Homo sapiens: one gene and its partners. The protein of the gene in region 3 purifies or fractionates together with the protein of the main gene of each other region. This does not show direct contact. Each region holds a gene or a part of one and is shown on either strand. Other genes may lie near its edges. The genes, in order: UFD1, POLR3B and SLC13A5.

Region 1 (3,650 bases), on a different chromosome or scaffold from region 3:
GATTACATGGGTGTATACATTTTCAAACTGGCTGAACTGTGTGCATTTTATTGTATACAAATTATACCATGGGATTTTAAAAAATCCTGTGGGAGTACTAAAGAACAAAAAAGATTTAATGAGTCAGATAGGTCCTCTCAAAAGTTCCTCAAAATCAAAGATGCTTTCATTTATACTTCTGTTGTTTCTATCTTTTGAGCTGATAACTTTAGTTAATAGAAATTAAAATAAAGAAACCAGCAAATACTTTTTATAACAGTAAAACTGTAGAACCCAAATGCCCACACAAGGAAATGTCTATTCATGTGGAATATTTTGCCATGTCTTCCTCATCAATTTGCTGAAGGACTTTACATAAAAAGGTCACATGAAATGTGGCTCCAGAGCCTGCCACTGTGAGTCCAACTTGAGGGTGAAAGGGTGAGGCTATCTAGGTTCACCTCGCTTGGTCAAACAGCTTTCCAGAACCAGAGCAACTTTGTGAAAAGCGCCTTATGTGGTGGATGCTTTCTTTGCTCCCAAATATGAAGTGCCACGGTACGAAGTGCCCTTCCCTCCACTCCTCTAGTGACCCTGCCAGGGCATCTTCTCTGACTTCCACTGCAGCAGCTGGAGGAGCAGAGCCAGAGCCCTCAGGCTGAGAACACGAGGCCTCTGCAGGCAGGGCGGGCTCCCCATATGGCCTCTGCGTACTCTGGCACCTGCTGCAGCACCAGCTTCCCACTTTCTCTGCTCGGTGCCAAGACTGCTTTCATCCAGACCTCAGCCAGACCAGAAAACACCAGGCTCTCAACTGATGGAAGTGACGCCCTTTCTCCACACACTAACAAGTTAATTGTGCTGACAAAACAGCATCTGAGATCAACCTGATAAGTCTGCATTGGGGCAGGGCGCGGTGGCTCATGCACGTAATCCCAGCACTTTGGGAGGCTGAGGCAGGTGGAGCACCTGAGGTCAGGAGTTCGAGACCAGCTTAGGCAACATGGTGAAACTCCGTCTCTACTAAAAATACAAAAATTAGCCGGGTGTGGTGGTGCACACCTGTAATCCCAGCTACTCAGGAGGCTGAGGCAGGAGAATCACTTGAATCTGGGAGGCAGAGTTTGCAGTGAGCTGAGACCGTGCCACTGCACTCCAACCTGAGCAGCAGAGTGAGACTCCGTCTCAAAAAAAAGTCTGCATTGCAACACATGTAAAAACCCTGAGAAAATGGGCATGGCCCATTCCTGGTCACTGACAGCCAAACAAGCATGTCTAGGTCAGAGCTCTGAAGGACAAGTTAACTAGCTCTTCCCATAGGACATCCCCCTGCCTGTGGGACAGGAGGCTCAACAAGGCCATCGTGTCCAGAACATAGGCAGCAAAGAATATACATGGCCCATATGCATCCAGAGCACACCCAGCAGTGCCTTGCTCCTAAGAAAACATGCGGAGAGAGCGCTACTGGGAAAGGAGGCAGCTTTTCTTAACTTCCTATCTGTCTGTGTTGTTTGACTGTTTGTTTTTTTTTTCAAGTATGCATTAAAAAAAAATAAAAAAAAAGAAGTAGAATGGAGTGGCCACTCTTATGCCATGATCGTAACAGGAAAAATCAGGGCCATGGAGCTAGAGATCTTGATTGGTGCACACAGCACCGTCCCGTACCTGCACTGCCTACTTCCTGATGCTGTCAACACATACACCTGGCTTAAGTTCAGAGGTGAACAAAAAGAATCCACTAGAACCTGATACCTTTGCTTTCTGCTTGGTGACATAGAAACTGCAGTCATTGCTACCTATTGGCCTGGAGTGAATCAGCTCTCAGGCTGGCATGCAGTGAGGTTGACGGGCCAGTGCACAGCTGGGCGGAGGTACTAGGGAGCCACAGAAGGGGCTGGAGCTGAAGGCAGATAAGCTGCTCCCTCCTTCCACTGGACATACTGTGCATCCTGGCTTTGTGCCAGGTGACACAGACCAACTGAAAGAAGGGCTTCATTGTGGTCTCCATGAAGTGTCTGGAAAGTGACAGAGGTGGCCCAGACAGCACCCAGTGCACTTGGCCAGGGCCACGCAGATGTGCTAGCTGAACCCCATTATTCTCAAATCACAACTTGAATCACAAATGTGTGATCCCCAAAGCAGGCACAGATTCAATACAGTACATGATGTTTAACAACCGCCAGCACACTCTCCTTTGTCTAGAAGAACTCCGCTTATTTGAAAAAGATACACGGCTTTGGGGTTGGTGATGTCCAGGAAGTCAGGGCTCTGAGGTTGGAATTTGGAGTAGGTGGCCACTTGAAGGTTGACGCTCTCCACCTGGACCAGGCCGCCTTCTTCCAAGAGTAAGTTCTGCATCATCTGAAAGGAAGAAGAGGCTACATGAGACTCCTAGAGATGAAGCAGCCTCCACAACCACTGCTCCCTATACACTGGGCAGGCCCGTCTTACTTGGGTCCTTGGAAGAGGAACCTGAGCCAAGATAAGTAATTCGTGATACTATGTCAGGAAGGAGGGAAAAATCAAGTGATGTGGAAGGAAGAAGGCCAATAAAGGGGTGCTACTGAAGCTGTATAGCTCACAGTGTGAACGCATCTCTGCAGGGCTGCCCGGATTACTCACTAGCTCCAGGCTTCCCAGGGGCAGAGCATTTTCCTGGAATAGTCACTCACTGTACTTCCAAGCTGTCCCACAAGCAAATTATAAGGCCCTGCGTCAAGTAGGGCTGCACCTGAGGTAGGACAAAAGCAGCACAAGGCAAGGCTGACCTGGCAATGGAATGGCCCACCACAGCTGAGGCTGCAAGATGGTGACAGACCCCAGAGGTCTCTGCTAAGGAGGTTATAAAAATCTGACAAAGCCTCCACATGTCTCTATTAAACAACCCAGCCAGGTAGACGACGGCTGAGAAGTGAGACGGAAAGAGATAAACAATGCCCATGAGTACTGGGTGTGCAGGGAGTCCAGACTCAGGTCAGAAGCTCTATGTCTCTTGCAATGAAATTTTGCTTGTCTTATTTGAAACCGTCTTAAAAGGGGTGTCAGACATATACATCAGTAGAAAGAGCCGTAGAAGAGAGCTCCCACGCACCGAGCCCTGACAGTTGGACAGTGCTCACGTCGTGGCTCAGTCCATCGATCAGCACTACCTCACACCCAGTCCCAAGCCACATTAGATGCCCTGAAGCAAATCCCAGGTATCACATCCCTTCAAGAATGTTTCATCGGGAGTGGCAGTGAGAAGGTGACTTTAACAGCCAAGGGAAAAGGGGGCTGAGGGCTGTGTCACAAATGAGAGGGAGCTCATGAGGAGGGAGAGGCATGCTGAGGCCGAGGCTGTGCCTGGGAAGCCGTGCCTAGGCCATGAGTGAAGCCTGAGTGGTGGGCCCTATGGATAGGCTTGCAGAGGACCCCATGCACTCACGCTGACAGCTGCTTGTCAGGCTAGTAAGGGCAGAAATAGAGGGTGGTCACTCTACCAAATGCCACAGGCAGGCACAGAAGGATGCAGAGGTGACTGGCTTTGGTAACGGGGGTCTGGCATCCCCAGGAGTGATGTTCTAACAGGAAGTATTCTAAGGCTCAGAGTTAGCCAGTCGCAGGCCAGGCGCACTGTCCCTGGGTAGATTTTTGTGGGAAATTTGTCAGCGAGGGGAAGGATACTGGGCTGC
Region 2 (3,650 bases), on a different chromosome or scaffold from region 3:
AAGCTCAGTTTGTAGCAACAGACTATAGTGGGCAAAATCATGCGTCAAACGAATCCTAAGGACTTTCAAATAAAAAACAGATTCCACCACTCTTTAGCTTTCAGTAAGTTACTTAGCCTCACTGAACCTCAGTTTCCTCATTTCTTAAATGACAAGAATAATCCAACCTCATAGGGTTGAATGAAGAAGTTAAAGCCTTACACATATAGTGTCTCCATTAAAATGACAAATGGTGGCTAGCATTAACCACTACCACAGTTGATTGTTATTAGTCATTTTTTCTGCCTTTCCCGGCAGACTGAGCTCTCTGAGGGCAGACTCTGTCTCCCATTAATCTGAATCCTCGGTACCTAATATGCATATTCATGAAGTGTTTGCTCACGGAATTAAATTTATCTTCACAATGAAAGAGGTTAAAACAGTTTCAAAAATAAAAACAAGTCTATTTCTTTCAAGAGCAAATATAAAGAGATTCTTAAAAACTCTTTTTAGTAACCTGCATATATACCTGCATAGCCTTCCCCCATCAGAAGAAATATAGACACATCGATCTGTAAGATTTGTTGAGATGGAAACAAATTCATTGATATATCCTGCTCTTCTCATGAGTCGAAATGTATTCACTAGCTTTTTGTGGTCTCGAATGACACCTAAGATGTTACCTAGGCAAAAAGAAAGAACAGGTAAGACAGAAATAAAAAATAAATGCAACCTGATTTAATATATCCAACCAATAAAAATAGTAATCAGCACTAAGCAGTTATTTGAAAATACCATTATTAACACCTGCAGCCAGTCCACAAGGTTGCAGGGAAGCAACAAAGGAAGAATGCTTAAGGGCCAGTCCTTCCACATGCAGGCTGAGGAATACTGGAAAAGTCAGCTTCATTTTCCTCATCTTTCAGCACAGTGCTGGGGCATGAACTTGGGGTCCAAACAACCTGGGTTTGAACACTGGCTCCATCACTTCCACAGGCTGGCAGTAAAGGTTAAACGAGCTGATCATTTAAAGTACTGAGAATTCTGCCTAGCACCTACTAACTGCTATTATTAAACTGCTTCTTGTTGTAATCAACATTTGTGAAATGAGGAAAATGAACTTTGCTTCCCAAGGTTAGCGGGAGGATTCAAAGAGGCACTGGGTGAAAGTGCAGAGTAAAAGCTCACTCAATGTTAGCCTCTGGGATACAATGAACTAGGCAGTCAGTTAACAGCCCTGCTGAGGCTCTGACCCCTTCCTCACCAGCAGATATAAAAAAGAGTTAATGCCTCCTAGAATGAGAGGAAGGGGGAGAGGAAGAGAGAACAGACAAGTGATAAGGGATAAGCTCATGGAGCATACTAGGGAGAGAACAGGCACACAGCACCAAATCAAAAGCAGAAAGGAAGAGAGCACACTTGCTGCTAAGTCTCTGGAAGACTTCGAAGGAGACGGGAAGAGGTATATGAAAGAAATAACTGGAGTGTGAGCCAAAGGAGAGGGATCCTCTTATCACAGGCTGCTGACATATTGATTATCAGATGGCTAGACAAAGTCAATTCATTATAAGAGTTGATCTGATAATTTTTGCAGAATGACTCCAATATTTGACTTGTACTTAAAGATACCATGTTGAACCGTATTCCACTAAGGATATGCCAGCAACTGCAAAAGGGGAGAAAGCAGCCACTTTCTGCAAAGTTACCCTTTAGCTCTGATAGCTATATCCTCTCAGAACCTTGGATAACCCAGCCAACAAAGTAACTGTTTCTGTTATCATTGTATTTTCTACCTTTAAGTGAAGGTCAACCTGGGCCCAGAATTAAAGTCTATCTGTGCTTTAAATACCAGGATAATAATGGATTCCCTCCCCCTCTTCACAGACTATCTAGGACCAACATGTCTCTATAATATACCCACCATTAAGAAAGACAAGAAACACATTTGGGTAAGAGAGCTCTTCCCCACATAATAAATTCACATCTTCTACTCCCAAGTTACTGGCTAATTTAACAATGGGTCCATCTTCCATATCAGTTGTGATGTGTGTCATAAGGGCCAAGTTTTTAACCAAACCACATGCCTAAAAAACAAAAGATGGTCATTTCTAAGAATGAACATTAGTAATACAAAGTACAGTTTACATCTGAAAATAGCTCACTACTTTGCTGGCAGCAATGCAAAGCAGTACAACTTTGTAGGGGATACTGTGGTGATTCGCACAAATGCCTTTAAAAAATATATATATCCCTTAACTCAGGGGAATTTCTCTTCATAACAAGCAAGGATATAAAATAGATTTAGATACAGAAATGCTCAGCACAGTACTATTTGTAATTGTAAATGCTGACGACATCATAAATGCCCAACAAAACTGATTACATTAACAATTACTCCCAGACATTGGAACATTACAGTCATTATGATGACATTGTATAAAATAAGTAAAGGAAAACATTAATAAATGCAGCTACATAAAAATATAAAACTTCTGGCCTGAAATGAGAGACTGTATAAAATAACTGGCCAGTGCCCTTAAGTTTCTTGGTCACGAAAGGTAAATAAAGACAGACTGAAAAACTCTTTCAGATGAAAAGAGACAAGGAGACATGACAACTAAAAACAATGTGTGATTCTGGATCAGAAAAAAGACAACAGTGGGACAACTGGCAAAATTTGAATAAGATCCATAGATTATAGTATTGTTCAATGTCATGAGGCTGATAACAGTGCTATGGTTACATAAGATGTTCACAGTTGGGAATCTAGATGAAAGATTGTGGAAAATCTTTGTACCAGTTTCATCACTTTTTTGTATATCTAAAATTATTTCAAAATGAAAAGAAAAGAAATCTTTTTAAACATCTATGCAACCCGGTACAGTTCTAAAACAAAAATACCAACAAGGACAGAATATAGCAAATAGGAAAAAAATACTTAAGACAGGTGACTTGTAAGATTGTATCTTCAGGTCTTAGAACCATCTGCTGCAGTAATGTACAAAATAGCTACTTTTTTGAAGTTAGCTGAAGCAATCTCTGGGAAATGAAATGTTTCAAAGTTCAAGATATATAAATTATGCAAAATTTGACAAACTGGATAATTTTAGTGTCAATTTCCATATGGTTTAAGATAAATTAAATAGTTTCTAAAAATCGCAGCTCTATACAGACTCCTATTTTCATCTCTTCCAAATAATAAATTCCTACACTTTGGACCCTACATCTTTTACTTGTTGTAATTATTAATTCAGCATATATTCATGGGGCCTGTACTCTAACCAAGGCTCTATGTTAGGAGCTTGAGATACAATGGTGAACCTTCCTTCCTCCAGAATTTTACAATTTAGAAGGAATAGAATCAAGTGAAACTAACAATGTTAACACAAAGGAGAAAGGACCGTGACACAGGGAGTAGCGGGTGCTATAGAAGTAAACCCATGTAAACTCCCTGGCTTGATGTTTAGGCAATTGCTTGTGTTTCCAATATAAGTGAGTCAAAATCCACATTAGGTCATGGACTGTATACTCCTAATTGGCTGTGACTGAGCCTACCTAAGGACAATAAGGAGCTGCTCAAAAAGAGCCCCTCATGAGCATGAGAGGTGGTAGGTCTTTCAATCTGCCTTCACAGTCTTATCCCCTCTGTGCATGTTTTGATTTTGGGATAA
Region 3 (3,650 bases):
AAAACCCTCATTTGTGGATTCTCCCTGGCAGGGAGACACCACTCGAGCCTGCATCCCCACTCCAAGCTGTCCCTGAAGTCAGCATCTGGGGACTGGGTGGCTCTAGTGTGTGGCAAGGGACAGTCCTGATGAGGCCTTCGTGCCACGCTCCAGGTGTGTGTCCAGTACATGAAGGACACCAACATGCTGTTCCTGGGCGGCCTCATCGTGGCCGTGGCTGTGGAGCGCTGGAACCTGCACAAGAGGATCGCCCTGCGCACGCTCCTCTGGGTGGGGGCCAAGCCTGCACGGTAATTACGCCTTCTCTCTCTTGCCACGTGGCTCTGCATGAGCCCCAGGGCTGGAAGGGGGTGGAGGATGGCACAGACCAGGCCATCCACTGGTGAGGGCTGGCCATGGGCTTACCTGGACTTGGCTGGGTGGGGTGCGTTATAGCTTTAGTGGGAGAGACCAGATGCATGCGTGGTGGTGGCACATGGTGAGCAGCAGTAAGTAAGGGTCCTCGAATCCAGAGGAGGTGGGTCAGCAAGAGTCCTTGCAGGCTTGGAAGGCTTTCTGGGGGAGGCAGCTAGCTGCAGGGTTCCACCGGGAACAAATTGGATAGAGGCTGGATCAAGCTGTGTCTGATAGGATAAGGGAAGCAGGCCAGAAGTGGCTCAACTACCCAGCTCATGGGGAAGCAGAAAGGTCCTCTCTCCAAGCTGGAGCATCTATTCCCACTGCAAAGAAGCTTCTTATCTTCCCCGATATCACTCAGTACCCCAGCTTCTCTCTCCATTTCCAGGATCTCTCCTGCCAATCTAGCTAGCCATTTCCAGCTAAGCCATGGAGTCAATATAATCATAATCATAACCATAATCAATCATGATCATAATGGGTATATTGAGTGTCTACAAGGCCCCAGGCATGATACCAGGAGCTTATGAATTGCCTCATTTAATTCTTACCACAACTCTGAGAGCTGAGTATTCTTACTGCCCACATTCTGTGGATGAGGGATTGGAGGCAGAGAGGGATAAAGTGATTTGCTCATGGACACACGGGGATTGGACCCAGCTTCTCTGATAAGGCCTGTGTCCTCTCTAATCAGAAACTCAGGGCATATCTTCCTTTTGAGACAATGTGTCCCCTCAATGATGGCACGTCCTTGGCCCAGCCATCAGGAGTCAGCTGCTGGTCAGTTTACGGTAAATTCCTCCTGAGGCGCCCCTGTGTCAGGGGCTGTGCTAGACCCTGAGCACACACAGACGCTAGCCTGCCCTGCAGGCAACCCATGCCCGGGGCTCCCTTGGTGCCTCAGATTCCCCTGAGCAGGGGACTTTGTGGCTCTCTGATCTGTTACACATCCTGGCATTGATTCCTTCCAGTAATTGCTTTAGCATCAAATCAAAAGCCATCATATTTTCTAGAAATGAGAGACCCCAGGAAAGTGGACCTCAGGGCCCTCAGAATTCTTCTGCTTGGCTCCCTTGAGTGGCCAGCTTGGGTGGGAGGCCACTCCAGTGGGTTTCATTCTGCAGCATGCTGGAGAGCTTCCACTTCCAAACCCAAGTTCACACATGCTTCTGTATCCTTCCTGCCACCTTGCTCCTCTGAGTATGGTCTCCGGTTGTCCAAGGCACTGCCTGTCCTGGGAGTCACCTGTATGTGAGGCACCCTTGGTGCCTTGAGATATCATGTAGAAGCCTTGGTTCTTCTCAGACAACTCCATTCATGCAAACTCTCCCCCTCCTCCTAGCCTGGGTCCCGGGCTTTGTTTTTTTTTGGGTCCATAATGTCTGCCTGTGTGGACAGCAGCTTGGGCCCTGGTGCAGAACAGCTCCTAGGTCCCTTCTTCAGGCTCCTACCCCTGCCCCTGCTCCTACCCCCAGGTGAATTAGGAGCCCTGAGGAGGAGCCTGGCTGCAGCGAGGCCCACAGACTGAGAGTAGCTGAGCTCCTTCTGTCCCTAGCCTTGGACAGCTGGGGCATGTAGAGCCACAGAGCAGAGTCAGGCCCTGCCCTGCTCACAGCCCAAGGAGAGAGCAGACATGGAAACAGGTGCTTTGAACCCAGCACAGCGATGATTAGAGTAGGGGGAAGGATTGAGAAGGGTCAGGCCAGCCCCACCTGGTGCACACACTGAGAGCGTGGTCCCAGAGGAGGGATGTTGTTTGAGCAGGCTCTGAAGGACCATGAGGAGTCTTCCTGATAGACAGCAGAGAAGGGAGCAGGGGTTACAAGCAAAGGGAGTGTTTCTTCTGAATACTGTTTGTGTGATAGCTCCACTGCAGCATGGAGGGGTCAAAGTGTATGTGCGGGGCGGAGGGGAGATGGCAGGGTTGGAGTGGCAGCCGGGAGAATAGTCACACTTTCCCAAGCTCCCTCCCCAGCTCACCCTACCCCTACTCTGCTTAGCCCTTCTGAACTTCTGAGAGGTGCAACAGAGTTTGGGGGTGGGTGGGAATTTCCTAGCCAGAAGTGGGAAGCTGGGGCTGCCTGCACATAGGGGTATTCCAGCACACCCTAGGGCAAGCTCATATTGAGTTGGCACCATCTGGATGCCTGGGCTTCCCCTGCTAGATGGTGGGGCAGGGGTGCTCCTTAGAACCACGACTGGATCTGAGGCCTCTTGGTAACCCCAGAAGCAAGCAGAGTAGACATCAGTCATGGGTGTGGGAGAGGCAGGAGGGAGAGAGGAATGGAGGAAGCAAAGAAGGGAAGGAGGGAGGGAGGGGAGGCTCTAAAACCGTCATCCCTATTCCAATATCTGATCTTGAATTGGCCTCAACACCTGTGCATCCCTGCAGGGGTGGACCCAGTCCCCAGTTGCTTCCCAGGGAGTACGGGGGTGGGGTGGGGATTCTCTGGCTTTCCTCCCTGCCCCTCCTCTGCAGGCTGATGCTGGGCTTCATGGGCGTCACAGCCCTCCTGTCCATGTGGATCAGTAACACGGCAACCACGGCCATGATGGTGCCCATCGTGGAGGCCATATTGCAGCAGATGGAAGCCACAAGCGCAGCCACCGAGGCCGGCCTGGAGCTGGTGGACAAGGGCAAGGCCAAGGAGCTGCCAGGTGAGCCCCTGGCCAGGGCACTGCCAGGCCACAACAGCAGCCTTCCCCTCCCTCTGCTGGCAAATGCTTTGGCCACCTCCTTCTCCCTGTCTGCTTCCCGGAGCCCTCCTTTAAACACGCATAGAGAAAAAAAAATAGAAAATACTGTTGTCCTAAGTTTTAGGAGGGGATTATTGCACACAACTTAGATCCTTTAATAGAGCTTTGAACAAAGTCTCACCCTCAGTTCCCATCAGTTGCAGAAATCAGTGTGTTCACCTGATTATTCATTTGGGCATCTTTCGAGCACTTAGGGATGCCCCTCACTCCTTGCTACTCCTGCTCATCCTCAAGGAGGCCTTTTCTGACCTCCTCGAGCAGCTCAAATCCTTCCACTCTCTGCTCCCATAGGTCTGGGGCTTGGCGTCCCATGCTTGCTTCCCTGCTAGGTGCGAAGCTCAGGGAAGACGAGTCAGCATCTACCTTGCCGTCTGCCGTGTTCCCTTACCATCCCCAGCCCAGTGCAGTAGAGTCAGGGTCTGTGGCTGACGGCCTGATTGCCAGACCCTGGGCAAGGTCCTGGGGCTTACAGAGAGGAATCGGGCACATCCCTGCCA

What was found.
Region 1: the proteins of SLC13A5 (region 3) and UFD1 purify together in Homo sapiens (affinity purification with mass spectrometry; one large-scale study listed by BioGRID and IntAct). This does not show direct contact.
Region 2: the proteins of SLC13A5 (region 3) and POLR3B purify together in Homo sapiens (affinity purification with mass spectrometry; one large-scale study listed by BioGRID and IntAct). This does not show direct contact.

Annotation. Positions count from the first base shown.
Region 1 is NC_000022.11:19,465,664-19,469,313, forward strand, and holds part of UFD1 (ubiquitin recognition factor in ER-associated degradation protein 1), read right to left. Parts: intron 2,341-3,650; coding exon 2,210-2,340; intron 1-2,209. UniProt on the Homo sapiens protein: Essential component of the ubiquitin-dependent proteolytic pathway which degrades ubiquitin fusion proteins.
Region 2 is NC_000012.12:106,430,731-106,434,380, reverse strand, and holds part of POLR3B (DNA-directed RNA polymerase III subunit RPC2), read right to left. Parts: intron 2,064-3,650; coding exon 1,901-2,063; intron 663-1,900; coding exon 509-662; intron 1-508. UniProt on the Homo sapiens protein: Catalytic core component of RNA polymerase III (Pol III), a DNA-dependent RNA polymerase which synthesizes small non-coding RNAs using the four ribonucleoside triphosphates as substrates.
Region 3 is NC_000017.11:6,703,282-6,706,931, reverse strand, and holds part of SLC13A5 (Na(+)/citrate cotransporter), read left to right. Parts: intron 1-153; coding exon 154-290; intron 291-2,875; coding exon 2,876-3,054; intron 3,055-3,650. UniProt on the Homo sapiens protein: High-affinity sodium/citrate cotransporter that mediates the entry of citrate into cells, which is a critical participant of biochemical pathways.